7 linked regions of the Homo sapiens genome follow. The protein of the gene in region 7 purifies or fractionates together with the protein of the main gene of each other region. This does not show direct contact. Each region holds a gene or a part of one and is shown on either strand. Other genes may lie near its edges. The genes, in order: PLIN3, RPIA, PAG1, EFNA5, TMEM63B, PFAS and FLVCR2.

Region 1 (4,306 bases), on a different chromosome or scaffold from region 7:
ACAGCCATGAGCCACTGCGCCCAGCTGCATGTATTTATTTAATCCTGCTCCTACTGTACCCATGCTTTTTTTTTTTTGAGATGGAGTCTCACTCTGTCGCCCAGGCTGGAGTGCAGCGGCCCAATCTTGGCTCACTGCAACCTCTGCCTCCCAAGTAGCTGGGATTACAGACGCCTGCCACCGCACCTGGCTAATGTTTATTTTATTATTATTATTTTTTTGAGACGGCGTCTAGCTCTATTGCCCAGGCTGGAGTGGAGTGGCATGATCTCGGCTCACTGCAAGCTCCGCCTCCCAGGTTCATGCCATTCTCCTGCCTCAGTCTCCCGAGTAGCTGGGACTACAGGCACCCGCCACCACGCCCGGCTAATTTTTTTTTTTTTTTTTTTTTTTTTTTTAGTAGAGATGGGGTTTCACTGTGTTAGCCAGGATGGTCTCGATCTCCTGAACCTGTGATCCGCCCGGCCTTGGCCTCCCAAAGTGCTGGGATTACAGGCGTGACCCACCGTGCCCGGCCTAATTTTTGTATTTTTAGTAGAGACCGGGTTTCACCATGTTGGCCAGGCTTGTCTCAAACTCTTGACTTCAGGTGATCTGCCCACCTCGGCCCACCAAAGTGCTGGGATTACAGGCTGAGCCACCGCGCCCTGCCTATATCCTAAGCTACTTATTTGCAAAAATCCCAATCCCCGCACTTTGGGGGGCTAAAGCAGTAGGATCACTCCAGCCAAGGAGTTCTGGATCAGCTGGGATGACAGAGGGAGACCCCGTCTTTACCAAAAATTAAATAAAGAAAAATTAGTTGGGCGTGATGGTGTGTGCTTGTAGTCCCAGCTACTCGGAGGCTGAGATGGGAGGCTCGCCTCAACCCAGGAGTTGGAGGCTGCATTGAGCTATGATCGCACCACTGCACTTCAGCCTGGGCAAGAGAGTGAGACTCTATCTCTAAAACAAATAAATAAAAAAGGGCCGGGCATGGTGGCTCACACCTGTAATCCCAGTACTTGGGGAGGCCGAGGTGGGCAGATCACAAGGTCAGGAGTTCGAGACCAGCCTGGCCAACATAGTGAAACCCCGTTTCTACTAAAAATACAAAAAATTAGCTGTGTGGTGGCAGGTGCCTGTAATCCCAGCTACTCAGGAGGATGAGGCAGGAGACTCGCTTGAACCCAGGAGGCAGAGGTTGCAGTGAGCTGAGATCACGCCATTGCACTCCAGCCTAGGTGACAGGGCGAGACTCTGTCTCTAAATAAATAAATAAATTAATTAAAGAAGAATATCAAATAAACAGTGCAGGGAGTGCGAATATGTGACCGAGATGACTGGAGTGGGATGTCTGGCCTGGCGGGAACACCAGCATTGTTGTCACAGTTCAGTGAGATCTCAAGTTTAGTCACGTATTTATGCAGGAGCGGAGTGGCGAAGGGGGAAGAGGAGGAGGGCGGGGAGAGGACAGGGGAGGTTGTGCAGGACCTTGTGGGCTGTGACGAGGACTTGGGCTTTGACCCCAGGGGAGGTGGGGTCCATGGAGGGCTGTGGGCAGAGGGACGGGTTCTGACTCAGGTGGTCACAGGCGCCCTCTGGTGGCTGCTGTGGGGAGGAGACTGTGGTGGATGAGGGCGGGAGCTGGTGAGCAGGACAGAGGGGACTGCGTTAGTGATGAGATTCCAAGATGCCCGGGAGAAGTGGCAGGGACGAGGCGGCAGTGAGTGTCGGCACAGACCCCAGGAGGCCGACAGCGGCTTCCGGTCAGGGGGCCTGGGGAGGGGTCCCAGAGCAGCCCGCTGGCCACACTTACCCAGTTCGGCATCCGTAAGGGGCAGGTGGTTGTCCGCCCACTCCTCCGACTTCCCCAGCACCGTGTCGACCCCACTCAACACCATCTGGCCCAAGCGGGAGCCCATGACCGATTGGACGCCGCCGGTCACTACGGACTTTGTCTTGTCCACGCCGCTCTGCACAGCACCGCGGGTCGCGTCCACCGCCTCCGACAATTGGGTGGCCACCGTGTCCTTGGCGCTAGACACCATCTCTTGGGCCCCCGACACCTTAGACGACACAAGCTCCTTGGTGTCCGCCAGGACCTAGGAGATGCAACAGCATCAGCATCTCTGCCTTCCCTCCATATCTGGGCACCCCTCCCCTGCACCCCAACTTCCAGGGAGACCGAGGCGGGGAGCGCCATCCCCCGGGTGACCCCAGCATCTCCGTCTTCCCTCTGTATGTGGGCACCCCTCCCCTGCACCCCAACTTCCAGGGAGACTGAGGCAGGGAGCGCCATCCCCCAGGTGACCCTGAGTCTGGAGTTGTGGGCATGACCTCATACTCTGCAGCCAGACTACCTAGGCTCCGTTCCTAGCTAGCTACTTCTCAGCTGTGTGGCTTCAGGAAAGTCACTCTACCTCCCTGTACCTCATTTCTTTCTTTCTTTTTTTTTTTTGGAGACAGGGTCTTGCTCTCTTGCCCAGGCTGGAGTGCAGTGACACCATCTCAGATCACTGCAACCTCTGTCTCCCGGGTTCAAGCAGTTCTCCTGCCTCAGCCTCCGAAGCAGCTGGGATTACAGGTGCCCGCCACCATGCCTGGCTAATTGTTTTTTGTTGTTGCTGTTGTTGAGATGGAGTTTCACTCTCGTTGCCCAGGCTGGAGTGCAATTGTGTGATCTCGGCTCACTGTAACCTCCGCCTCCTGGGTTCAAGCGATTCTCCTGCCTCAGCCTCCCGAGTAGCTGGGATTACAGGCATGCGCCACCACGCCAGGCTAATTTTGTATTTTTAGTAGAGATGGGGTTTCACCATGTTGGTCAGGCTGGTCTCAAACTCCTGACCTAGTGATCCGCCCACCTCAGCCTCCCAAAGTGCTAGGATTACAGGCATGAGCCACTGCACTCTGCCTGTTTTTTGTTTTTTTTTTTCAATTTAATTTTTTTTCTTTTGAGATGGAGTCTCCCTCTGTCACCCAGGTGGAGTGCGGTGGCACAATCTCGGCTCACTACAAACTCCACCTCCTGGGCTCAAGTGAGCCTCCCACCTCAGCTTCCCCAGCGAGTAGCTGTGACCACAGGCACGTACCACCACTCGTGGCTATTTTTTATCTTTTATTTTTATTTATTTATTAATTTTTTTGAGGCGGAGTTTCACTCTTGTTGCCCAGGCTAGAGTGCAATGGTGCAATCTCGATTCACTGCAACCTCTGCCACGTGGGTTCAGGTGATTCTCCTGCCTCAGCCTCCCAAGTAGCTGGGATTACAAGCACATGCCACCATGCCGAGCCGATTTTTGTATTTTTAGTAGAGACGGGTTTCACCATGTTGGCCAGGCTGGTCTTGAACTCCTGACATCAGGGGATCCACTTGCCTGGGCCTCCCAAAGTGCTGGGATTACAAGCATGAGCCACTGCGCCCAGCCTTATTTTTTATTTTTTGTAGAGACAAAAAATACAAAAAATTAGCCGGGTGCAGTGGTGCATGTCTGTAATCCTTACTACTCAAGAGGCTGAGGCGGGAGAATCCCTTGAACCCGGGAGGTGGAGTTTGCAGTGAGCCGAGACTGCACCACTGCACTCCACCCTGGGTGACAGAGAGAGACTCTGTCTCCAAAAAAAAACAAAAACAAACAAACAAAAAAAAGCTTTGCATGGAATCCTTTGACTACGCCCCACCCAGCACATGGTGAGCGCTCATCTGTCAATACCTGCTGTTCTCGAATCTAAGTCTTTTTTTTTTTTTTCTTTTGAGACAGGGTCTCACTGTGTCACTCAGGCTGGAGTGCAGTGGTGCAATCATAGCTTACTCAAGCCTTGACCTCTTCGGCTCCAGCGATCCTCCCACCTCAGCCTCCCAAGTAGCTGAGACTACAGGTACGCACCACCACACCCGGCTTATTTTTTTATTTTTTGTAGAGACAAGGACTCTCCATGTTGCCCAGGCTGGTTTCGAACTCCTGGCCTCAAGCAGTCCTCCTGCTTTGGCCTCCCAAAGTGCTGGGATGACCGACATGAGCCACTGTGTCCAGCTGAAGCTAAGTCTTTAGACAGATCTCTATGCAGAGGGCTCTCCGCAAAGTTGAAAACCACACCTGCCCCATTCCTACCCAAGTTGGTGCTTCCCTGAAGACTCAGTCCTCTTGTACTCATGAGAGTTCATCTTTTTGTGGGGGAAGAGGGTGTGAGAGTCAAGTTTTTTGTTTTTGTTTTTGTTTTTTTTTACAGAGTTTTTGCTCTTGTCACCCAGGCTGGAGTGCAGTGGCACTATCTCGGCTCACCGCAACCTCCACCTCCCAGGTTCAAGCGGTTCTCCTGCCTCAGC
Region 2 (4,252 bases), on a different chromosome or scaffold from region 7:
TGATAGAGGAGGGGTGGGCAGGAAACCCAATTTAGATGAGGTGGTCACTTAGACTTCTTTGGGAAGGTGGTATTTCAGCTGAGTCAGAAGGGTGGATGGAGCAAGCAATGCACAGATGGCCAGGCTGGCAGGTAGAGCATTTAAAATGGTTCAAAGGTCCTCAGGCCGGGGGTAATGGGGTAAAGCAGAGACTAGGTAACATTTACTTCATGAATCTTTTGGTGTGGGTGCTGAGGAGCATGAATAAGGTGAAAGACTCCTCCTAAGGAGATACATTAAAGGTGACATATTTGCCTAGAGTAGCCTTCAACTTTGCAGACCAACAGTAGTGGGAGTCCAGACATACTGTTCTGCATGTTAGCCAGAACCTTTTGCTATGTTCTGAATTTGGCCTAAAATGAAGGATTCAAATATCATCTCAAACAACTTTTCCTCCTACAGACTAAGGTGAAGATTCAAGAGCTCACGGCCTCAGAGGGCAAAGCATAGTTAAGAAAATCTAGGTGATAACCGGCAGTTAACAGTGGCCCATACCAGTGACTTGCGCTCACGGAAGAGTTCTGAAGGCCTGGAATGCGTTTGAAGATGAGTTCATGAGCAGACAGAAAGGATTCCACTAACAGCCGAGAAACACAAAGGTCATGTGTTTTTAGGGACCTCCAAGTGGTCGGTAAGGTTGGGGTCAGCATTAGTTTCTTTGCCTGTAAAATGGGGGCAATAAGAATTCCTCGTCCCTTAACTATTCTCAACAGCAAGAAACCTTAAAGGTAGAGAAGAAAAGATAAATCTGTTTTCACAGAAAGTCCTTGTTAGTCACGAAGGATTGCAGGATCGCTGCAGGGCACACTCATATGTGCAGAACCAGTCTCCAAATGGGCGGAGCAAGGTGCAGCTCCACCTGCTTCACCACTAGGTGCAGAAGAATGTCCACGGCAGGGGGTTCTCAACTTGTGACCTTGGGTCTGCGGGGGTCTAGATGGACTTCAGCTGGCGCCGTGTCGCATGTGAGTTTCCTGGGCTGTAGTAACCCCAAAAGGGCCGCGTCGTCTACAGAAGTGCCACTACTTGGAATTCTTGTCCATGGCCACGTTCTCACTGCTGGGAGAAACAACAGGGTCAGGTCTAACACTCCTTTCTCGGATGCATGGGCGAACAGAAATATCCCTGGGCTTCACCTAGCCGTGGCCTAAGTACACTTCCCCAGGGTAAGGAGTCACCATACTGATATTCCCGCGGCTAATGGTACTTCACAGAGCGAAGTGCCGGAGCCCGTCGCCGGCGATTGCGCATTCCGTCGCGGAGAGCATTATGGGATTGGTAGTCCAGACTGAGGCGCAGATAGGGGTTCCTCGAAGCCACAGAACTACATTTCCCAGCAAGACCCGCGCAGCAGGGCACGCAGACTGTGTGCGTAAGCGACCAGATTTCCGGGGGAGCCGGGGGCGGGACTTCAGCGGAGGCCGGAGCGAGGCGTCGGGATGCAGCGCCCCGGGCCCTTCAGCACCCTCTACGGGCGGGTCTTGGCCCCGCTGCCCGGGAGGGCCGGGGGCGCGGCCTCCGGCGGAGGAGGGAACAGCTGGGACCTCCCGGGTTCCCACGTGCGGCTGCCGGGGCGTGCACAGTCTGGGACCCGTGGCGGTGCTGGCAACACAAGCACCAGCTGCGGGGACTCCAACAGCATCTGCCCGGCCCCCTCCACGATGTCCAAGGCCGAGGAGGCCAAGAAGCTGGCGGGCCGCGCGGCTGTGGAGAACCACGTGAGGGTGAGCACTTCGAAACGTGGGGCGCGGGGCGCATGTCCTTGGCGTGATGGGCTACTGTTGCGCGTTGTGGGTGCTGCCGGGGCGCGCCTAGCTCCTGGCAGGGCGGGAGCTGAGTGAGAGGGTAGAGGGTGTGCACTTTACCCGAGTTTAGACCCCTCTTCCCTGCTCCTTAAAGACCTTTTAGATGTGGAATCGGTTGGGGGCGAATCTTCTAATACTTGAGCTTTCTAAAGACTCCTTGTCCAGCTGGAACAGTTTGCAAAGTGGAGCCTGGTGCTGTCTGATGTTTGGAATGGGGGCTAGAGGCACTTGCCTTGTGGCCTCCTTATCAATAAATGGAAAATGGTGGGCTTTGGGGCTGCGGAGAGGTTTTCATTTCTCTTTACTGACCCGGAAGCCGGCGGAGAGTTGGTTTGCTAGTGCTTTGAAATTTCAGTCGAAGGAGGTTCTGGGCTTGGTGCGCGCCGGCCCCTGAGTGTACTCTTGGAGGGAAGGGAAGACCCGGGGCTTCAAACTTCCTTCTTTCCATAGGGCTGGGTGGACTAAGTCTGGAGGATGCTGGTTTATTTTTTAAGGCGGGTCTGCAGAGATGTTTAGCTGTTATTCAGTCAGGTCGTGGTCCCTACTTGTTTGTTAAGTGGCAGGTGTGGTGCTGTTAGTGGAGTTTTTTTAATCCAAGTGGTTTTGCTGTCACCAATCAAGTATCTTAATTATAATAAGGAAGCCAAGTGGAGTATGTCTGCCCTGTGGTGTAGTTTCCTTGGTCTTATTGGCTTTTTATCTCTCGTTTCTACTTATTAGAAAGTGGTATTAGAGTCTCTTTTCTTCTCCGATAATAGTTCTTTACATTTGTTAATGCTTTACAAAATTATTTTGCTTAGATGATGTTGGATGAGCTTCACCACAGCCTGTTTGAGTGGGAGTGGACAATGTGGTAACCTGTGGCTCAGCCAGTTCTGTAGAAGGGATGTTCCAGTGTGACCTTCTACTCTTTCCACTGCTACCCTGTTCTGGTGTAGCTTGTTGTAAGTCTGATTGGCAATAGGATTTTCTATGGGGATTAACAGAGATAATGTAAAATGTGTTAATTTGACCCTACCTTTGGGATTCAGTGCCTCCGTTGTAAAATTGAGACAATAAGCTGAAATTTCAAAATATCTGCATACAGTGAATAGCTAATAGATAAATGTAATCCACATGAGAATACAATTAGAAAAGCCCCATATCTAAGTTGTCCTGTTAATGAATTTACATTAATATTTGGTGGCGCATCTCCCTGACCTTTGTGTTATAGTCATGTATTTGATTAAATAAAAATCTGCAAGCCCTGACCTTAGGCTAGAGCCCCAAAACACTGGATTCTGACCACATCATTTCATGAAGTTAGGTAATTTTGGGGAGATCTACAGTGACCTTTTGGGGGCACCTGTTAAAATCATATATGCCCTTCAGGGTTTGGCTTAAAGGCCATTTCCTCCTTTCAGTTTTTCCTTAGCATCCTAAGGAGAGGAAGATTTCTCTTCCGTGATTCTGTAGCACTTCATGCCTCTTATGTGCTTTATGTTGTATCTCATGTTTTGGTCATCTGTGTGTTCGTTTCTTCCAGCCCCTTAAAGGGTAAGCTCCTGGAGGGTAGTTAACCTTCATTTAGCATTGGTCACAGTGGGTCCTGCCCAGTACATGTTTGTTCAATTGTGTGCAGTGTGGACACAAATACGAAAGTGTTGGGGTTATTGGAGGTTCTTTGTGTAGAATCTCTGGGGAGTAGGGCTTCCTGTTCTCTAGTCCATTGGAGTTCCAATATGGTGACCACTTCCGTGTCTGAGTGGATGGAAAACATGGAGAGTTCTCAGGTGAATCCTTTGTATAGCCACCTTGGGCCCAGCTCTGTCTGTTTCTGTGGGTGTAGCCACCCAGGATGGGTCGACATGCAGAACTAGGCTCTTCTGAATGTCTGTAGCCTCATCCCTTTGTTCTCTTTGGAGCCTGGGCTTTGTTTTTTTACTAGCTTGGTTGAGGAAGCTGATGGGCAGTGGTTCTAGTTGGTTAGCAGAAGTAGTATTTCCAAAGTTACTCCATTCGACAAGCTGAGTGAAGTTCTGATGTTGCACATACATGTGGTTTAATATTGCCCATTAGAATGGGGCCACTCCTCTAGCAGGGCCTGCTTGGCAGTCTTCTGCTGTTGGGCCACCTCATAGGCAGCCTTTGGTCACCTCTGGTTGGCTTTGGCAAGGGCACTGATTTCCTGGGCCAGTCATTTGATTCCAAGGCAGCAGGGATCACATGGGTGAAGAGCTTTAGGTCTGGCAGGGCCTTGCAATTCCTGGTCTCTTTCAAAAGGCAAAGAACGAGCCTTATACAGAGCTTGTCTGATTCATCCGAATTCACCTCTGTGCCACCTGCCTGCTGGGGACTGTGAGTGACATGAATGTATGGCTAAGCTTGGTAACCAGGAATTTGGTGATTGAATTACTGTAAAGCTAGAG
Region 3 (4,306 bases), on a different chromosome or scaffold from region 7:
GAGAGCAGATTAACTTCAGTAAGTACAGTTCCAGGCAGGAGCTAGGGTCAGACATAGCAGCCAACAAGAGCAGATCGCATATTCCCAAGCACCAGGGTGCAAAATTCACGAGTTAGATTTTCAATGAAGCATTAAAATTGTTAAAGCCAGTATTATACATATAATATGAAATATGTGTATATATACATATTTCATATGTATATATATAAATGTTGAGCTATGCTCAGAGAGCTAAACACCTTAATTGATCTAGCTGTATATAGCTTCTATCTGGAATTCCTAGCAGAGTAAATTGTGTACATGTACAAGAGCAAAGTACATATGCAGGTACATCACTTCCTATAGGACTCTGAGTAAAGCATTAGAATATGGACATAGACACCCACGTTGAATGTTCAAAGAGCAAAAATGCTTTCCCTAGGTGATATTGCCCACCCTCGTCCATGTTTCTACCTCCAGAATGGACCTGCCATCTGTCTATCTGGTTGCACAGACCAAAACCTAGGGGTCATCTCGATACTTCCTTTTCCTCACTGTCCTCCAACACAGTCAATTGCCAAGACCCATCAGTTGCACCTCCAAACTGTTTTCTTTGTGTACCCACCTCCCTCAAGCCCACTGCGGCCGCCCCTCCCTAGGCCAGAGCAGTCCCCTCCTGCTGATCCCTGGCAGCTCCTTGGCCTCCCTCCACTCTGTTTTCTACTCTGCAGCCAAAGTGATCCCATCTGGGACAAGAAGGTAAAATATATAGGAGTTCTGGGAATTAAAGACTATGTAAAATTTTAAATTGCTCCTTATCTTACATTTGTTTGTATTTTTTGAAACAGGACCTAGTTATACTGATGAATTTTTAACATGACAGAACTATGACTCACAGACATTCATTTTAGGACAAAGAGGAAAAATAAATATGAAAGTTTTTTTTGTATTTATGTAATTTAATGTTAAACAGTCCAGACTGAAGCTGAGATCTGAGCTTTAAGTTCTATTACCCCAATTTAACAGAATGTTATGGAAAGGATTGATTAGAAAAAGAAGAGAAATGGGGAAAAGGAAGAGAGTAACTTATGGGAATATAGCAACAATTTACAGACTGAGGAATAATGATGAAAGTTTTAAAGAGAAAAATTGAGAAGCTAAATAGCAAGGGGGCTGGAAGAGAAACCTGTATACAAAATAAAAATAATAGTCATAATGGTCATAGAAAACAGTCAAAAGGAATATGAGAAGACTCAAGAAGCTTTTATAAAAGTTGAAATGTACAGTGAGACCCTCTGCACACTAGGTTCATTCCCAGAGTCAATATTAAATTGCAAGTTAATGAATGAGGACAAAGGCCAAGAAGACCAAGTACTCTTACAAAGAGTGAGGGGCATTAATTACAAAGACCAGGGGGAAGAAAGCTGAGGAGAGAAGCTAACGGTGGTGAGGGGCTGACTCTCATTGTTACAATCTAGGTCAAGGTACATTTGTCCTCCTTGATGTTACCAGGTGATGAATACGCTGGTATGCCGTCTCCCCTCACCATTGTCATCCATTGTTTACCTTTTTATAATCTGTCCACATATAATTTTTGGCTTGGACCACCATTTAGATAATACATTCTGTGTTTGCACTTCCTTATAAACAGCAGTGAATTTTTTTTATTAAATTCAAAGAAATTATAATTCTTGTATTCTGAGAGCAGTTTTTTCATTAAAACCTCTAAGGTGAGAATGTTAATCATTTCATATTCATTAGGATAGTCAGATCAACATAGTAAGAGTTTTCCAAAGACTGTTTTTCTGAACTGTAAACCCTTGGATTGTCAAGGCCTCACCAAACTGAGCCAGCCACCAGCCTGTAATGAAAAGTTCTCATGCAAATGACCAGTTAGCATGTGGCAGGCCTGTCTTAAGAAGCTTTTGAGACATAAGAAGGCCTGTCTTAAGACAGGCCTGTCTTAAGAAGCTGGAAACTTCACCTGCAGTATGTGAGAAAAGTGGAAGCAGGAAAATGTCCCTCAGCCCTTGGGAAGCCAGGCATCTGTGAGGAAGCATGTTCATGTATTTCCTGGGTATTTGAATGAATCAAATCACTGTGATAAAAATAAACACAGGTAATGAAGGGTATTTTTACTTATTTCCAACCGTGATTTTTCACAATAAAATAATACTCCCCAAAAGTCTCCTAATTAGTATATTTAATCTTCACAATGAATGAAATCCCTGTTGATATCGGAGGTGATACAGGATTTATTAGTGAGACTGTGGGGGTGTGCTTGGAAAGCCACTGGCTCTTAATAGTATCCTGTAAGTTGTCATTTCTGACTTGGCTGGTTGCAAGCGAGAATGAGTTTTCCCACTGAAGAAAACTAGACCTGGACTGTCAATGTCTGTTTAACCAGTAATACGCAACTAAGTCAAGAAATAATGGACAGGAATACCCTTTCAGATATATGTGTACCACCAACGAGAATCCAGCAACGGGTGTTGGAGACCACTGTGATGCAGGAAGCATGGAGTAGTCTAATTCAGAGTTCTTATACTTTACTGGCCATCAGAATCAGCACCGGTTGCTGGGCCCCAGCCCCGAGGTTCTGATTTGGTGGTTCTGGGATGAGGCCTGAGAACTTGCCTTTCTGACAAATTCCCAGATCCTGTTGCTGCTGGTTTACAGCCCACACTTTGAGAATCACCGGTCTACTATGTGTTTTCTGTCCTTTTTTGTAAAGCAGTGGAGCCCCTTTTCAGGCAAAATATCATTCTGATAAAGAAATGAAATAAAACACATGCTGTGGTCAGGTCCCCGGGGCCTTCAGGAGCTTCCCACTCCACCTCTCCTCAAATTCCTCGGCAGACCCAAGAGAACTGGGTTTTCACGGAATTAAGGGAATATGACTGATCTAGTTAACATAGTTGAAGATAGTGTGTGTAATTATTCTCTAGTAATGTGCTCCATAATTAGTACAGATAAGAAAGAACAAATCTTTAAGGAGTACACACACAGAAACCCAGGAGTGCTCAGTATGTAGCTTGTCACTAAAAAGAGGGAGGGGGAAGTCACAGCTGGAAGTTTATTCAACTCTCCCTTTGTCTCCTAGATCTCAGCTATGTACTCATCAGTAAATAAACCTGGACAGTTAGTGAATAAATCGGGGCAGTCGCTTACAGTTCCGGAGTCCACCTACACCTCCATTCAAGGGGACCCACAGAGGTCACCCTCCTCCTGTAATGATCTCTATGCTACTGTTAAAGACTTCGAAAAAACTCCAAACAGCACACTTCCACCAGCAGGGAGGCCCAGCGAGGAGCCAGAGCCTGATTATGAAGCGATACAGACTCTCAACAGAGAGGAAGAAAAGGCCACCCTGGGGACCAATGGCCACCACGGTCTCGTCCCAAAGGAGAACGACTACGAGAGCATAAGTGACTTGCAGCAAGGCAGAGATATTACCAGGCTCTAGCAACCCAGAAGACAACCCTGGGTAGCCTGTGATCAGTGTCTGGAGACGTTTCTTCTGTGGAAGAGAAGAAGTGACACAAACCTATACTTCATATGCTGCTTTAGTCACCTGAAGATGGTTGGAGAGGCCCTGTCGACTGTTCTCCCAGTTGTTCAGTTTCTGAGACAGAGAGGTACGGACTAGGCTGCACCTGAGTGTGCCCCTGCCTGCCAGATGGACAGGTACACCCAAGCACATCTCCCTGCTGCACCCTCACCACCCACAAAAGATCCCAGCTGTCAGTGGTCTCATCTCATTAGTGAGGAAAGCCAAGCTGTATGGAAAAGCTGCACTCACCAAGGACCACAATGCCCCCGGCCTAAAGTACTGCCATTCAGAAAAGCAGGTTTTTCTTCCTCTCTTTCCTTTTCTCTGTCTGCTACTGACTTTAAGGCTTTTTCCCCCTTGAAATGTCCAGATTCCTGTGGTTCATCCCAAGGAAATTTTCACACAAAGCTTGGCCTTTGCCCTCAATATAGGTGTTTTAGGATGGTGACAAACCATGGCTGCTGCTTTCTGCCCAGCTCGCCAGTCCTCCCCAAAGAGTTGCGCATCAGCACCTGGGGATCTGGACCCTGCGGGTGAAGGGATGGGGAGGGACGTCCCTGGAGTCTCTTCTGTCTTTGTTCCTTCTTATTTTGGCATTCGATATCAGCAGCCTCTCCCCAAAGTACTTGAAGTCAGTTTTAGATGCTTTATTTTATTTTTCTAGTCAAAAACGTGTTTCCCCCAGTGTTTGAAAACTCGTCCGAATCTTTTCAGTATTTTCCATGAGTATTGTGGTACTTCTAGACTTGTTTAAGCCCAGAACTCATTCCTTCA
Region 4 (3,500 bases), on a different chromosome or scaffold from region 7:
TGCACAGGAGCTGACGAACCACTGGTGTCACTATGACAATTTGGCATTTTCATCTGGAGTCCATTTAATTTGGGAGGGGTGAGAGAAGCCAAGGGCCAGGGCTGGGGGTGGGGCGGGGTGGGGTGAGGGAGGCAGGAACAAGTTTAGGCCCCCAACCTGAAGTTGTTGCTTAGAATTCAGGCTGAAAGAAAGAAAACAAAAATCTGACATCTGCCAAAACCCAATAACAAGTCCCTTCTTAGGATGAGCAGTTAGGTGGATCTCTGGTGTTCCAAGACCCTGATGTTTTCTGTGACAAGTGATGGGAGGAGACTGTGCTATAATGTCAAAAGCATCGCCAGGAGGAACAGTAGGATTGCCAAAAGGCGGCTGGGTATCCTTGGTGTTTGTGCCGCGTTCTCGCCGCGGGATGGCTCGGCTGACTCATGTACGGTGTCATCTGTTCAAATAGAAAGCACACATTCCAATGAGATTTCACATCCTTAATAACTCTCTTGCAGCAGCCTGCTGTTAACAGACCTCGCCACCCTCTGCAAAGTAGGGTAATGAACCTTGTGCCACCATTGACTTTCATGTCTGCATAATCACTCATTATTTACAGCAAACAAAGAAGAGGCAAAGAAAATTGGACTTTCTCAGCAATATTAATACTTTCCTTAAAAATTGAGGGGAAAAATTATGCATACACCGTAACCTTTGGCCTGTGAGCTGCTTTGGTTAGCCAGCAGTCAGACACGCCTTGCACAAATTTCAGATATCTGAATGTACCTTTGAAACCTAAGATGTCACAGGCAAGCAAGTGACATGTTGGTGGGGGTGGGGGAAGGGGCAGTTATGTTGGCACAGTAGTGGTTAACCAGAATGCGCTGCCCATTTCCCTTCTTTTAGCTGTTTCATAGGATTAGTGTTGAATGCCTGGTTGTTGGATGCCTAGACGAATTTTCAAACATGAAAAACTAAATGCCAAAACAGCAGCATTTTGGATAAACTATACATCATGCCTAGTAAACTTCAATAAACGTATGCCCACTAGTTTGCCTGCAATTAGGTGTCAATTATGGTGCTATTTCTATTACAAACCCTGTATTTCTAAGATTAAATTACTTGAACTTGACTATTTTTATTTTTATCGGGCTGAAGCTTGGCACATAAATTATCAGCGTGGATGCAAATTTTCCTCTAAATAAAATAGATTAAGTGAGTTAAGCTTCTTTTATTTAGCTATAAAGTGTTCTATGAGGCTGCCTCTGACTTTGGATAGCCTTCCTGATCTGCATGATTAACAGGCTTAACTTCCAAATGGGAACTCTGAAGCAATTAGTACCAAAGAGAGGTTGGAGGCTTGCCTAGGAGCCAAGCTCTGCTCCAGGGCTGCCTGTCTTCTTCTTTCCACCTGACCTAACTTATGCTTTTATTTACTTTTAATTAAGTTAAATTAATTAATATTTTTTTAGAGGTAAGGTCTTGCTCTGTTGCTCAGGCTGGAGTACAGTGGCCCAATCATAGCTCACTATAGTCTTGACCTCCTGGGCTCAAGCAATCCTCCTGCCTCAACCTCCCGAGTAGCTGGGACTCCAGGTGTGAACCACGATGCCTGGCTAATTTTAAGAATTTTTAGAGAGACAGGGTTTTCCTTTGCTTCCCAGGCTAGTCTCAAACTCAGCCTCAACCAACTTCCTCCCTTGGCCTCCCAAAGGATTGGGATTATAGACATGAGCCACTATACCTGGCCACTTGTGCTTTTAGACTAAGGATCTCTGAATAACACATTTTGGGGGCCAATAGTGAGCCCCTGTGCAAATTTTATCTCAGCATCAGGGTAACTTCCTGCAGGTGTTCAGCAGTTGCCATCTGGGAATTGCTCAAGGGCCAGACAGAATGGTAACAAGGCTCTAGTGGTTGTTCTCAATTATACTGACCTCAAAGGATAATCCCTAAATACCCCTGGATGACCCACCTCAAACCCCTTAATGGGTTAACTAACCATTATTTTAAACTCATTTGTATTTTCCTACCACACGTGTCACAATAAGGGTGCTTTTCCTTCACTGGGTAGAATCACACTCGCTAATATTTGTCCTAAAGTAACCACTTTTCAGGTTCACAGGCTGACCCCTGCTTCAGATATGCTCGTTTGGGATGGTTTTGTCCATCACATCCATTCCCAATGAGAAAGGTCTTCTCAGTGTTGAGTCTCCTGACCTGGAGTGCTCTTACCATTTTAGCCTCCCCTCGAATAAAAGCTACTGCATCCCCTTGTCAAATGTGCTCCCCTTTCCTGGACCTTAGCGAATCTGCATGGAGTGATTTTAGCTTAGGAGACTAGAAAAGGTTAGGAAGCAAGATGGTAAGATAAATGGATGCAGAAAAAATATATATAAAGTCCTCCACAATGTGGCCAAGTACCTTCAGACCCTCTTCTATTCTCTGCTCTTTTTCAGCCTTGCAAGTGTATTAATTAAATCTGTAGTTAATAGGAAGTAGAAGTAAAGGCCCTTAATAGCCCTGAAATTAAAATCCAAATCACTTTCTTAAGAGCACCAATATGTTGTCAATCAAAACAATGGAGCACTTCAGGCTTAACTGTGAAATAACCACAAACCCTGAGGATTCCAGAGTTCATTTCACAATATCACATACTTAAACACCTGAAATTGCATCAGCTATTGGATTCCTCTCCATCTTATTTTTACTAGCATATTACCCAATCCTTCTCCTTGTATAGCTTGCAAGTGTACTGTTAAAGGTACCCAGCTAGCACTTAGATCTTCGGTGTGAACCCCTTCATCACCACCCTAGTCCCTTCTAGGTACTCAGTGAGGGCTATCCATTATTCCAGGTCCACTCAGCACAAGACACAAGGAATAGATCTTACAAGGTAATGGAGAGGAAGGCTTTTGTTTTTCATCTAAGTGAAGTATGAGGCTAAGTGTGACTTTCAGTCCTTTAACCATACACAATCTTTGGAATTAACCTTTTATAAGCACCCAACGAATATATATCTTCCTGCCCCCCAAAAGGAAATCAGTCCCATTAGGGCATCAGGATCCTTCTCTTCTTCCTGCAACATGCTGTTCCTCATTCAGGATTCCACAAAGCATCCTTTGATTAAAACAGGTTCTCAATGTTGGAAGATTCTACAGCCCCCAAATGTGAAATGAGAAACTGGCTGTCATTTGGGTAAATCTGAGCAATTTCAGAATTCTAAGGAGGAATTCATAGGTAAAATCTATCCCAATGGAAACTACACCTAAACATGAGAGAATTTCTAACGCTTGTAACACAGGCTTGGAAGAAGAAAGAAAACGTTCCTCTTCAGAAGTCAAATCAAGTTTTGCCTCCTGGCTACAGGATTCCACAACATGGGGGTTTCAATGGTTAACGGAGAGAACACTAGCGATATTTTGGAGCATGTTATGTGGCATATGTCTGCCCTGAGATCATCCTGCATCCCTGATGATAGGAAACTGGCAGGCAGAGTGTGCAAGCAAACAAAAAAG
Region 5 (3,039 bases), on a different chromosome or scaffold from region 7:
ATACTTAGGGAGTGTCTTGGAGGCTACTAGGGGTATCCCTGAAGGTCTCTAGAGCCCATATTTTTGGGTATGTGTAGGAGGCTCTTGACCTTATAACTCTGGGGGTGTCTGTGGGCGGGGAGGCTAAAGGACTCACACTTTGGGATGTTTAGCAGTACAAGTTCTGGGAACATCTCTAAAATTTCAGGCTTTTATTCAGAGATGTAACTGTGGAGTTCTGTATGGGCATCTTCTCTGGGAATCATGTGAGGATATATTGAAGGTCATGCACCATGGCTGTGGGCACAAACTCTAGGGGTTTTGCTGTAGGCCATCTGTGGTGATCTTTGAGTCACACTTGGGGCATCTCAGGCACTGATAAAGGTTCCTGGGCTCCCCCAGAGATGTTGCGGGAAGGGTCTCAAAGCTTGTTTGTGGAGGTATCTGAGGCTCATGTCACACTCTGGGGGTAACTCGAGTTATGGTCTAAGTGGGGGAATCTTCTGGGTGTTCCTGGGGCTGTCAGCCTTTGGGTTCTTTGAGGGTCTCATTGGGTTGTCTTTGGGGGTCCTGGACAGTTCTCCCCTGAACATTCTAGCAGCCTTAGGTGGTCTTGAGCACTCTCTCCATGGGTCTTTATGGGGCACAAGTTCTTGGAGCTGTCTGTTGCCACTCTGTATGTCTCTGGGGGGAACAGGGCACAGGTGCTTGGGGCGCTAAGCTGGGGGTGTCCACATGGAAGAAGCATGTTGGTGGTGGAGGTGTTGGGTGCTGTAGTTCTGGCAGTGGGCGGGCGGCCACCGGGTCACCCCAAGGGTGCAGTGCTGGAGCACCTGGTGCCCGCAGGTGTGTGTTCCTGCCCGACAACGGCGCCTTCTTCGTGAACTACGTCATTGCCTCAGCCTTTATCGGCAACGCCATGGACCTGCTGCGCATCCCAGGCCTGCTCATGTACATGATCCGGCTCTGCCTGGCGCGCTCGGCCGCCGAGAGGCGCAACGTGAAGCGGGTACGGCCGCCTGGGGCAGCAGCGGCCCGCACAGCGCCCCCTGGTGGCCCAACAAGAAACAGCAGCCATCGCGCTAGGGTTGAGGGGCACAGGAGGGCTGAGACTTGGGGAGTACAGTTGACTCACGGTGGATCCGGGCCATCCCCTTCCCATATCTGGGGCCTTCGTATTCTGCCATGGGTGGACATAGGTAACCCTGAAGGCCCCTGCCAGTTCTGACAGTAGCATTCTATGATGGGAGTTGGGGAGATCTGGGTCCCTAGCGCTAGGGTCCCTCTGTCTTAATAAGAGGGCTCTGGGCATCCCACTCTCAAGTCCACCCAACTCTTGCCCCCTACCTGCCAGGCCCCGACCCTTGAAGGCCCCTCTCCGTGCCCCATCACTGCAACCGCCCTGACCCTCCTCTCGGCCATAGCCCCTCTCTCCATCTGCTCTGCCCTACCCTACCCTAGACATTAGGTCCTGTTCCCCATGGCTTCTTTTCCGGCCCCAGAGGTCCTGGCTCCCTTCCCCCTCCCTCCTTCCCTGCCCCTCTGGTCAGTCCCTGCCTCCCTGAGCCATCCTCCTGCCCGTCTCCCCCCCAGCATCAGGCCTACGAGTTCCAGTTTGGCGCAGCCTACGCCTGGATGATGTGCGTCTTCACGGTGGTCATGACCTACAGTATCACCTGCCCCATCATCGTGCCCTTCGGTAGGCACCGCCGCGCCGGGACCTGGGCCCTGCTCGGGGGGACCCAGGACTTCACCCTCTCCACTCTAGGAATGCAGGCCACCCCGAGTGGACAGGGCCCGGCTGGGAGACCGGCCCCTCGGGGCTCCCGCCCGGTCCCTGGCTCAGTCTGGGGCCTGGCCTGTGGGGAGGAGGGGGAGAGCCATCAGCTCAGGCCAGACCCAGCTGGCATGTGGGCCCCAGGGCAAAGTCACACCAACATGGCCATACTTACCCACACCTGTGCCTTCCCTCAGCGGGATGTGCTTGGACACAGATCACATACGTGCTGACATGTTCACACACACACTCCCACACAGGCATCCATGTGCACACTTTTACACCACCCTGTAAACTCAGGAAAGACTTGGATTCCAGGGTGGGATGGGTCCTTGCCACTCATGGAGATAGTCTGCTGTATCTGAGCTATGTGACTTGGCCAGGTCTCTCTTCCTTTTTGAAGTTTAGCAAAGTTTCTCTTTAACCATCACCCCCACTGGTAGCCTCTACTTTCCTCCCTAATAACATCCTAACTCCTTAACCAACCCTCCCTGGTTATTGAAGGCTCCAAGTTCCCAAACTAACTTCCTTGTCCTCATTAGAAACTCCCTATCCCTCAGCCTCTGGGGAAATAGAACTTGTCCCTTAATTTATACGTATCTGTTTAGGGACAGGGTTAGAGAAAAATGATACGGGTTTTAAGAAGATGCTTGTTGATTCAAATGACTAGATTTCCAATAGTAGAATTCCTGATGAGGAGAGTAGAATGAGGGGTTGTAGCGGAGGAAGCTGAAGTTCTGTGATCACGCTGGGGCACGGGGCACTATCCCGTCCTGGGGCCCGGGCAGGAGGAGGGGGCCAACCCTTCAGCACTCTCAGGACCAGAACAACCTGTGACAGACACACAAAAGGTTCGGCAGCACTGGTTCCGAGGTCAGGGCCCATGTGGCTTCCCTTAGGGCTCATGTACATGCTGCTGAAGCACCTGGTAGACAGGTACAATCTCTACTACGCCTACCTGCCGGCCAAGCTGGACAAGAAGATCCACTCGGGGGCTGTGAACCAGGTGGTGGCCGCGCCCATCCTCTGCCTCTTCTGGCTGCTCTTCTTTTCCACCATGCGCACGGGTGAGGGATCCCTACCCAGGGAACGGGGGGTGGCGAGCAGAGTGGATTCCAGCCAGAGCAGGCCACAGGAGAAGCCGCATGGCTGGGGGTGGCAGGCAAGGGGCCTGGGAGAGGCTGGGGCCAGTCTGTAGCACCTGGGAGAGTGAGGACTGCATTCAGAGGGTATCAGAAGCTGGGGTGGGGAGGCCCACAGGAGATAGCAACCCCATTCTTTGC
Region 6 (4,306 bases), on a different chromosome or scaffold from region 7:
GGTGATTTTATACCTGTGCAAATAAATCAGCGGGATGACTTCCTCAAAGTGTATTTACCCAATCAGAGACTGTGTGCATTTGTCATTTTGGTTGTTATTGCCAAATCGTCCTCCGTAGTTGATATCAGTTTACTCTCCTATCAACCCAGTCAAGTGGTAAGGCTTCTGGGCTAGGCAGGGTGGCTCACGACTGTAATCCCAACACTTTGGGAGGCCGAGGTGGGCGGATCACCTGAGGTCAGGAGTTTGAGACCAGCCTGGCCAAGATGGTGAAACCCTGTCTCTACTGAAAAAATACAAAAATTAGCCGGGCACGATAGCAGGCGCCTGTAGTCCCAGCTACTCAGGAGGCTGAGGCAGGAATATCGCTTGAACCCAGGAGACGGAGGTTGCAGTGAGCTGAGATCACACCACTGTACTTCAGCCTGGACAACAGAGCGAGACTCCATCTCAAAAAAAAAAAAGCTGGTCAGGCTTCTCCCTAACATCAGCTTCCTCTGTGTTCACGCTGCCTTGCTTTCGAGGCCTCTTCTCGTGGCTTCCCCAGTGTTCTGATTCTGCCTTCCCTTCTTACAGGCATGGAAGTTGTAAAGGTTGGAGGTCCCGTCTACAGGATTGGAGTTGGAGGTGGAGCTGCTTCATCTGTGCAGGTGAGTGGGAATTGCTAAAGGTGCAGAATCCTTGATATAACCGGGCCCCAGGCATAGGGGAGCGTATAGGAGCTTCCAGTCTCGCTGAGCTGAGCTATGCCATATATGCCCCCAGGTGCAGGGAGATAACACCAGTGACCTGGACTTTGGGGCTGTGCAGCGAGGAGACCCGGAGATGGAACAGAAGATGAACCGTGTGATCAGGGCTTGTGTGGAGGCCCCCAAGGGAAACCCCATCTGCAGCCTTCATGATCAGGGCGCTGGTGGCAATGGTGAGGAAAGGAGTTGGAACAAGAGACTGGGCCTGCCTGGTATCCTGCCAGGTTTCGTTTAGGGAGAGGTATCAGGAATCTCCAACCAACCACCCAGCTCTGGGTCCCATTCTCCATGCTCTGTACATTCTAGACAGGTTCAGGGTTGGAAGGGTGGAAGCCTGCTGCCGTGGGATGATTGGTGGTAAGGGTGCGGCAGCAGTTGACACAGGAACACACCAAATTACAGGCCCCTTTGGAGGCCAGGGACTGCCCTTTGTTGCCTGACCACCACTAGGTCACTGCTTCTCCTTGCAACCCTCTCACCAGGCAATGTCCTAAAAGAGCTGAGTGACCCAGCTGGAGCCATCATTTACACCAGCCGCTTCCAGGTGGGTCTCGTCCCCTGAAGTGTGACATTTTCCCACCCCTGCCAGCCCCAGCCCGCTTCCACCCATCTCTCTTGCAACAACATGAGACGTGGGAGTGCCCACTGGCCCTTCTCTTTCCTCCCCGCCGTGGCTGTGCAGCTTGGGGACCCAACCCTGAATGCCCTGGAAATCTGGGGGGCTGAGTACCAGGAATCAAATGCTCTTCTGCTGAGGTCCCCCAACCGGGACTTCCTGACTCATGTCAGTGCCCGTGAACGTTGCCCGGCTTGCTTCGTGGGCACCATCACTGGAGACCGGAGAGTGAGTTGGCCCAGGGAGTTGGGAGCAAACACTGGGGCAGACATGAGCCACCTGGGTATGGGCTAGAGGGAGAGCTGTCAAGGGAGAGAGACGAGAGGAAGATGGGAGGTAGTGGCAAACAAGCTGTGGGGAATGTTGGATCCAAGGAGGGGCAGGGACTCAATATGGAAACCAAACAAGGAGTGGAAAGCACATTTGTGCCCTGATTTCTAGGAACATTCCTTGCTGGTGTTCATAGTCTCATCCCCTCTGGGTGGGGTCCCTGTGGTCTATAGATAGTGCTGGTGGACGATCGGGAGTGTCCTGTCAGAAGAAATGGCCAGGGGGATGCCCCCCCGACACCCCTGCCAACCCCTGTGGACCTGGAGCTCGAATGGGTGCTGGGCAAGATGCCTCGGAAGGTATGTGGGGTTGAGGGGATGGGTTTTTCCTGTGGTCCTCTCCACACCACCCTTTACCCTACGTGCACTTTGTCGCCTGTGTGCCCAGCCCGCCCCAGGTGTTCACACTGCCTGTCGCTGTCTGTGTTGCAGGAGTTCTTCCTGCAGAGGAAGCCCCCCATGCTGCAGCCTCTGGCCTTGCCCCCAGGGCTGAGCGTGCACCAGGCTCTGGAGAGGGTTCTGAGGCTGCCCGCCGTGGCCAGCAAGCGCTACCTCACCAATAAGGTCCTCCCTGCACCCTTCCTCTGCCCCCTGCCTCCTTCCTCCGCTCAGCCTCTTCTGCCCTCCCACCCTTAGAAAGTGCTGTGGGGGTTTTTGCCTGGCCCTGCAGGAAGCAGCAGGGGCAGGGCAGCCACCCTGATGGCCTGGTCTCCCTGCTACCCACCTTCTAAGTAGAGCTGTTGTCTGCATTGGGGGAAAGACAGGCCTCCCACTGCCCTGAGTGCCTTGGGGGCATGTGCGGGAGCTCAGGCTGTCCCTGTCCCTTGCTCTCTTGCTAACCCCACCTGGTTCCACAGGTGGACCGCTCTGTGGGAGGCCTGGTGGCCCAGCAGCAGTGCGTGGGGCCCCTGCAAACTCCTCTGGCAGATGTAGCGGTTGTGGCACTGAGCCATGAGGAGCTCATAGGGGCTGCCACAGCCTTGGGAGAACAGCCAGTCAAGAGCCTGCTGGACCCAAAAGTCGCCGCCCGGCTGGCCGTGGCCGAAGCCCTCACCAACCTGGTGTTTGCTCTGGTCACTGACCTCCGGGTGAGTTCTCCCACAGCTTCTATCCTGGAGCCCCCGGGCTTCAGGACCCTTCCACATCCATCTGTAGCCCTTCATTTCATGTTGCAACCTCCCAGTCCGCCTGCACCCCTGGCCTCTCCACATTTCTCTTCCCCTCTAATGCTGTGCCTCTGCCACCCCCAGGATGTGAAGTGTAGCGGGAACTGGATGTGGGCAGCCAAGCTCCCAGGGGAGGGCGCAGCTTTGGCGGATGCCTGTGAGGCTATGGTGGCAGTGATGGCAGCCCTGGGTGTGGCAGTGGATGGTGGCAAGGACTCCCTCAGCATGGCTGCTCGGGTTGGCACTGAGACCGTGCGGGCTCCTGGTGAGGTGTGGGAGCCCCAGGGAGGGGAGGAGGAACTATGGAGCTGGGTTGGCAACTCATTCCTTTGGACTCCTCCTTGCTCTACAGGGTCACTGGTCATCTCAGCCTATGCCGTCTGCCCAGACATCACAGCCACTGTGACCCCAGACCTCAAGCATCCTGAAGGGAGAGGTATGGACATGGCCCCATCCTTTGTGATCTTTGCTTGTGTGATCTTTGTTTGGCTCCTGCTTTGTGAGTGCTGGGCCCCCATCTCAACACTGGGCTGTGGTGTTTTCTGGGACTGATTGTCTAGGTGTCTCACCACATGCTGGGAATAGCAGTGCTGTGAGCCCCTCAGGGATGGGTCCTCCTGAGCTGTTCCCCTCCCCTCACCCCTCCCCGTCTCCCCAGGCCATCTGCTCTATGTGGCTCTGAGCCCTGGGCAGCACCGGCTCGGGGGCACAGCTCTGGCCCAGTGCTTCTCCCAGCTTGGGGAACACCCTCCAGACCTGGACCTTCCTGAGAACTTGGTGCGGGCCTTCAGCATCACTCAGGGGCTGCTGAAAGGTGAGTGAAGACCCCTGGGGAGATAGCGCACAGGGTGCCAGGCGTGCAGCAGGCGTTCACCATCTGAGCAGTGGGGCAAAAGGGACTCCAATGGACGATGTACCCCAGATCCCCTGACATTCTGACACACACTCTTGATGGACTGACTCCGGAAGGTGGGGTGGGGCTGTCAGGTTTGGGTCCCGAGGTTGCTGAGCTTTCTTCTCCTTCCTCCAGACCGCCTCCTCTGCTCAGGCCACGATGTCAGTGACGGAGGCCTCGTCACATGCCTGCTGGAGATGGCCTTTGCTGGAAATTGCGGGCTACAGGTGGATGTGCCTGTCCCCAGGGTTGATGGTAAGGAACCTGGGGTCTAGTCTCAGGCCCGGGCTGCCTTCTCTACCCTGCAGACCCCATTTCCAATATATTAAAGAGTGGAGTGCCCTCCAGTCCCCTTTCCCTGAGTCTTCCCTGACTAGCTTTTCTGTGCTGTCTCTCTGACAGCTGAACTGGATGGAACTGGCTGACACCCACCATGTTCCTGACTGCACCCCTCTGAGACTTCCCATCCCTGAGATGTCCATGATGAAACATCCTCAGTCCTGCCGTCCTAGCCCTCATCCTCCCTGATCCCTACCCTACTCTCTGGCTGC
Region 7 (4,306 bases):
TGAGGTTCCCAGAGGTTGGTCCACTTATCCAAGGTCAATAGCTATGGAAGTCATTGTCACAGTCTGGGATTCCAACATGAGTCTTCTGGCTCCAAAACCCATGCTCATTCTACCAAAACAATGTGCTGCCTCCCAACAGATTCCCCAACAAACCCTTCCATCTGTCCCCCTACGTACGTACTCCCTATCTGTTGCTCCATCGAGACACTAGGGTCCCAAATGGCCAACCTGAGCCTCATCTTGCCCTCAGGCTCCAACTCACCAGTGAGGGCTGCTCCAAGAGTAAGGAACACACACAGGAAGATGTTCCCAGGCTTGGTTCCATAGTTGTCAATAATCTGGCCCTGGGAGATGGTAAAGATGATCCCAAATACCTGGAAAGGCATAAAGAAGATAGGAAACAAGGGCCCAGTCAACTAACTCATGAGGAAGAACTGAGCTGCCATGATGCAATGCCTTCCCAGCCAGGAAACAAACAGGAAATACGAGCTCTACCTGTGCAGATATGTTGAGGAGGCCGGAGGAGATGCCTTCTGATTCTGGGTACGTGAGCTCCACAGCAAACTCAAATCCCAGTGGGAGATAGCCAGTCATAAAGAAGCTGAAGACCAGACCAGAGAAACAAGGGGATGAAGAACTTCCAGAACAAGAAGGATGGGGAGCCCACCTCCTCCCCTAGGACTCCCTTTGCTGTTTTGTTTCTTCCCACCAAGACATACTAGGCCCTCTAATGATCTGGGCATCCTCTATGTGATCATACCAAGGAGACGGGCACCCCTGAAGGCCAGGAAGAAGTTCACAGGGAGACCTTGTGCTCAGCAGGCCTCTGGGATCCCTTGCTGCTTCTCCATCTTGCCATCAGTGACAGCCAGTCAGCATTTACAGAAGGGGCAAGGATGCCTGGTGTGTTCAACCTTCAGCTGAGAGACTATGTCCTGGGTACACAGGCCCTGTGCTGGGAGTGGGAACTTCCTGGATATTGAGCAGGATCTCCGTGGCTCTCTGGGACCTGGAAGGAGGAGCTTAGAGTCCTCCTTATTTCCATCCAGAGAGGAACCAGCTGAGGACTGAGTGCCAGCACATGCTCTCTCCCTCTTTCTCTCTTTCACATGCACATACAGACACACACACACACACACACACACACACAAACACTCATATACTGCCCATAGGAAAATAACTGGGAAGCAGAGCTGAACAAAGACTCCTGTGAAAGAGGTATTGTTTCCTATGTTTTCTCATACAACAGGTCTAGAAAATTCCAACTTTAATTTCTCCTTTTTTTTTTTTTTTTTTTGAGACGGAGTCTCACTCTGTCTCCCAGGCTGGAGTGCAGTAGTTCGATCTTGGCTCACTGCAACTTCCGCCTCCCAGGTGCCAGCGATTCTCCTGCCTCAGCCTCCCAAGTAGCTGGGACTACAGGTGTGTGCCACCATGCCTGGCTGATTTTTGTATTTTTTAGTAGAGACGCGGTATCACCATATTGGCCAGGCTGGTCTTGAACTCCTGACCTTGTGATCTGCCTGCCTTGGACTCCCAAAGTGCTGGGATTACAGGCGTTAAGCCACCGCACCCGGCAACTTTAATTTCTTACATTTTCACAATGCTTCTTGATGCTTTCATATCTATTATCTTTCTCAATCTGTCCAACAACTTGACAAGGCAGGCCACTATTATCTTTCTTTACAGATGAGGAAATTGAGGCTCAGAATGGTTAAGTGCTGTGCCCATGGTCTAACAGGTAGGCAGCAGCAAAACTGAGACCAGGACCCAGAGTCTCTGGTTCCAAGCCCTGTGTACTTTCCACAATCCCATGTTGTCCAGGCAAAACTGAAAAAGACTCTGAACAGGTTCTAGCCTCCAAGAGGTCGCGAAGGGTGTGCTTCATGCTTCATTCCATCCCAAAAGAACAGACAGCCCAGGCTGCCTTTGGAAGTACTACAAGTATTACCGAGACCCCTGGGCACCATGTCCATATCTCCTGAGGTCAGTTAGAAGGCAGCAAAGGCATCAATATTGCATTCTAGGATGCTGGAAGCTCTGGGAGCCATGGCATGGTATTTTCTAATAAATCAGCCAGAGGTGAAACTTACCCCATTGTGCCAGCAGTGATGAACACTACCCACAGGTGTCCCAGGTTCAAGGTAAACGTGTACACCACCATGCCCACCAGTGTCATGATATAGACTACCAGGGTTGTCTCTCTACAAGTAGAGGCAAAGAAATTGAATCAAACACTTCTGACTTTAATAGGCTCATTCATTCATTTATTCCACAAGCATCTATTAAGTATCTGCCGCATGTCAAGCCCTCTGCTATGTTCTTGGAGTTTTGTTTTGTTTTCAGAGACAGTGTCTTGCTCTGTTGCCCAGGCTGGAGTGCAGTGGCGTGATCACAGCTCGCTGAAACCTCTACCTCCTGGGCTCCAGCAATTCTTGTGCCTCAGCCTGCTGAGTAGCTGGGACAGTTGTGCGCATCACGCCTGGCTAATTTTTGTATTTTTCATAGAGACGGTGTTTTGCCGTGTTGGCCAGGCTGGTATCGAACTCCTGACCTCAAGTGCTCCACCTGCCTTGGCCTGCTAAAGTGCTGGGATTACAGGCCTTACAAAGCCAAGGCCTGGCCTTGTTCTTGGACATTTTCTTTCATAGAACTTTCTCTCCATGAGGGTGATGGACACTGACAGATGATGATCACACAAAAAAATTATTTAATTACATCATGATCAATGCTACAAAGGGTAAGTAAGACTAGTAAAGTATGAAGCCATCTTACGATATCTTTGTTCCCTTTCTGTAGAACCCACTCAACAATATCAATCTGCCCCTTGACTTGTCATGTCCTAGCCACAGACAAGAAGGGCAAAGCCCTTTCTCCTTCTCCCATCCCTCACCAGAAAAAAGAAAAAACAGGACAAACATCAGCCATGATGAGGTGGCGGTGACATTCAGGACTACCCCAGAAGCTGTCCAATTCTGCTTGTCTGCTTTATCCCAAGACCCATGACAATGCTGGGCAATGTGCTCTGTCACCTACAAGTTCTTCCTGTCCCTACTTGAACAGACCAACAGACCCAGCAAAGCTTTTTCTTTTCTTTTTTTTCTTTTGTCCTTTTTTTGAGATGGAGTTTCGCTCTTGTCGCACAGGCTGGGGTGCAGTGGCGTGATCTCAGCTCACTGCAACCTCTGCCTCCCGGGTTCAAGCGATTCTTCTGCCTCAGCCTCCCAAGTAGCTGAGATTACAGGCATGCGCCACCATACGTGGCTAATTTTTTGTATTTCTAGTAGAGATGGGGTTTCGCCATGTTGGCCAGGCTGGTCTCAAACTCCTGACCTCAGGTGATCTGCCCGCCTTGGCCTCCCAAAGTGTTCTAATTAGAGGTGTGAGCCACTGCGCCTGGCCCAGCAAAGCTTTTTCTGTTGAGTCTGAACTACTCCACTCCAGAGAGCAGGAACTAAGAGAGAATATTCTCTCAGCCTGAACTGAGTGCTTGACTTCCAAAGCCAATGTGAGAAACCTTCTCTATCTTCGCCCACTCCCTGTTACATTTCCCTGTGTCGATCCCCTCAGGAGTACCATCAGCAAGTCTTGGTTTCTATTTCAGTCTCACCCCCTCCTGTGCCCCTCCAGCAGTTCTCTTCCCATGTTGCCCACCTAGGACTCTGATGCAGCCCCGACTCCTGCAATTCGACCTGCATTCTTCTCCCTGCACTACCTAAGGCAGGGCATAGGCACTGCACATCCCTCTGCCCCCCTACCATGAACATCAGGACTCAGATGATGAAAGCTTTAAAGCTTTTCTTTTCTTTCTTTTTTTTTTTTTTTTTGAGATGGAGTCTTGCTCTGTCACCCAGGCTGGAGTGCAGTGGCACGATCTCTGCTCACTGCAAGCTCCGCCTCCCAGGTTCACCATTCTCCTGCCTCAGCCTCCCAAGCAGCTGGGACTACAGGGGCCCGCCACCACGCCTGGCTAATGTTTTTTGTAGTTTGTTTAGTAGAGACAGGGTTTCACTGTGTTAGCCAGGGTGGTCTCGATCTCCTGACCTCATGATCTGCCCGCCTCCGCCTCCCAAAGTGCTGGGATTACAGGCGTGAGCCACCGCACCTGGCCAAAATCTTTAAAGCTTTTCTTTACACATCACCCCTGAAGCCAGAATCATGGTGGAGGCACCAAATGGCACGCTACGGTTGTGTCAAACGAAACCCTCCATCTCTTGAGTGCCAGATTCTGTGAAGCACTTCACATGCATTTATTATTTCAATTCAACCTTTACAAAAATCCTGTAAGAAATATCTGATGATTTCT

The links.
Region 1: the proteins of FLVCR2 (region 7) and PLIN3 fractionate together in Homo sapiens (co-fractionation; one large-scale study listed by BioGRID). This does not show direct contact.
Region 2: the proteins of FLVCR2 (region 7) and RPIA fractionate together in Homo sapiens (co-fractionation; one large-scale study listed by BioGRID). This does not show direct contact.
Region 3: the proteins of FLVCR2 (region 7) and PAG1 purify together in Homo sapiens (affinity purification with mass spectrometry; one large-scale study listed by BioGRID and IntAct). This does not show direct contact.
Region 4: the proteins of FLVCR2 (region 7) and EFNA5 purify together in Homo sapiens (affinity purification with mass spectrometry; one large-scale study listed by BioGRID and IntAct). This does not show direct contact.
Region 5: the proteins of FLVCR2 (region 7) and TMEM63B purify together in Homo sapiens (affinity purification with mass spectrometry; one large-scale study listed by BioGRID and IntAct). This does not show direct contact.
Region 6: the proteins of FLVCR2 (region 7) and PFAS fractionate together in Homo sapiens (co-fractionation; one large-scale study listed by BioGRID). This does not show direct contact.

The regions. Positions count from the first base shown.
Region 1 is NC_000019.10:4,850,218-4,854,523, forward strand, and holds part of PLIN3 (perilipin-3), read right to left. Parts: intron 2,085-4,306; coding exon 1,799-2,084; intron 1-1,798. UniProt on the Homo sapiens protein: Structural component of lipid droplets, which is required for the formation and maintenance of lipid storage droplets. Required for the transport of mannose 6-phosphate receptors (MPR) from endosomes to the trans-Golgi network.
Region 2 is NC_000002.12:88,690,221-88,694,472, forward strand, and holds the start of RPIA (ribose-5-phosphate isomerase), read left to right. Parts: upstream 1-1,452; 5' UTR 1,453-1,478; coding exon 1,479-1,763; intron 1,764-4,252. UniProt on the Homo sapiens protein: Catalyzes the reversible conversion of ribose-5-phosphate to ribulose 5-phosphate and participates in the first step of the non-oxidative branch of the pentose phosphate pathway.
Region 3 is NC_000008.11:80,975,683-80,979,988, reverse strand, and holds part of PAG1 (phosphoprotein associated with glycosphingolipid-enriched microdomains 1), read left to right. Parts: intron 1-3,082; coding exon 3,083-3,445; 3' UTR 3,446-4,306. UniProt on the Homo sapiens protein: Negatively regulates TCR (T-cell antigen receptor)-mediated signaling in T-cells and FCER1 (high affinity immunoglobulin epsilon receptor)-mediated signaling in mast cells.
Region 4 is NC_000005.10:107,380,938-107,384,437, forward strand, and holds part of EFNA5 (ephrin-A5 isoform 1 precursor), read right to left. Parts: intron 440-3,500; coding exon 318-439; 3' UTR 1-317. UniProt on the Homo sapiens protein: Cell surface GPI-bound ligand for Eph receptors, a family of receptor tyrosine kinases which are crucial for migration, repulsion and adhesion during neuronal, vascular and epithelial development.
Region 5 is NC_000006.12:44,151,021-44,154,059, forward strand, and holds part of TMEM63B (mechanosensitive cation channel TMEM63B), read left to right. Parts: intron 1-825; coding exon 826-988; intron 989-1,572; coding exon 1,573-1,678; intron 1,679-2,655; coding exon 2,656-2,823; exon of another isoform or gene 2,824-2,957; intron 2,958-3,039. UniProt on the Homo sapiens protein: Mechanosensitive cation channel with low conductance and high activation threshold. Osmosensitive cation channel preferentially activated by hypotonic stress.
Region 6 is NC_000017.11:8,262,344-8,266,649, forward strand, and holds part of PFAS (phosphoribosylformylglycinamidine synthase), read left to right. Parts: intron 1-576; coding exon 577-650; intron 651-765; coding exon 766-922; intron 923-1,231; coding exon 1,232-1,293; intron 1,294-1,431; coding exon 1,432-1,593; intron 1,594-1,868; coding exon 1,869-1,994; intron 1,995-2,126; coding exon 2,127-2,258; intron 2,259-2,551; coding exon 2,552-2,782; intron 2,783-2,944; coding exon 2,945-3,125; intron 3,126-3,212; coding exon 3,213-3,296; intron 3,297-3,518; coding exon 3,519-3,674; intron 3,675-3,890; coding exon 3,891-4,010; intron 4,011-4,157; coding exon of another isoform or gene 4,158-4,180; exon of another isoform or gene 4,181-4,306. UniProt on the Homo sapiens protein: Phosphoribosylformylglycinamidine synthase involved in the purines biosynthetic pathway. Catalyzes the ATP-dependent conversion of formylglycinamide ribonucleotide (FGAR) and glutamine to yield formylglycinamidine ribonucleotide (FGAM) and glutamate.
Region 7 is NC_000014.9:75,637,250-75,641,555, reverse strand, and holds part of FLVCR2 (choline/ethanolamine transporter FLVCR2), read right to left. Parts: intron 2,205-4,306; coding exon 2,094-2,204; intron 602-2,093; coding exon 496-601; intron 375-495; coding exon 263-374; intron 1-262. UniProt on the Homo sapiens protein: Choline uniporter that specifically mediates choline uptake at the blood-brain-barrier. Responsible for the majority of choline uptake across the blood-brain-barrier from the circulation into the brain.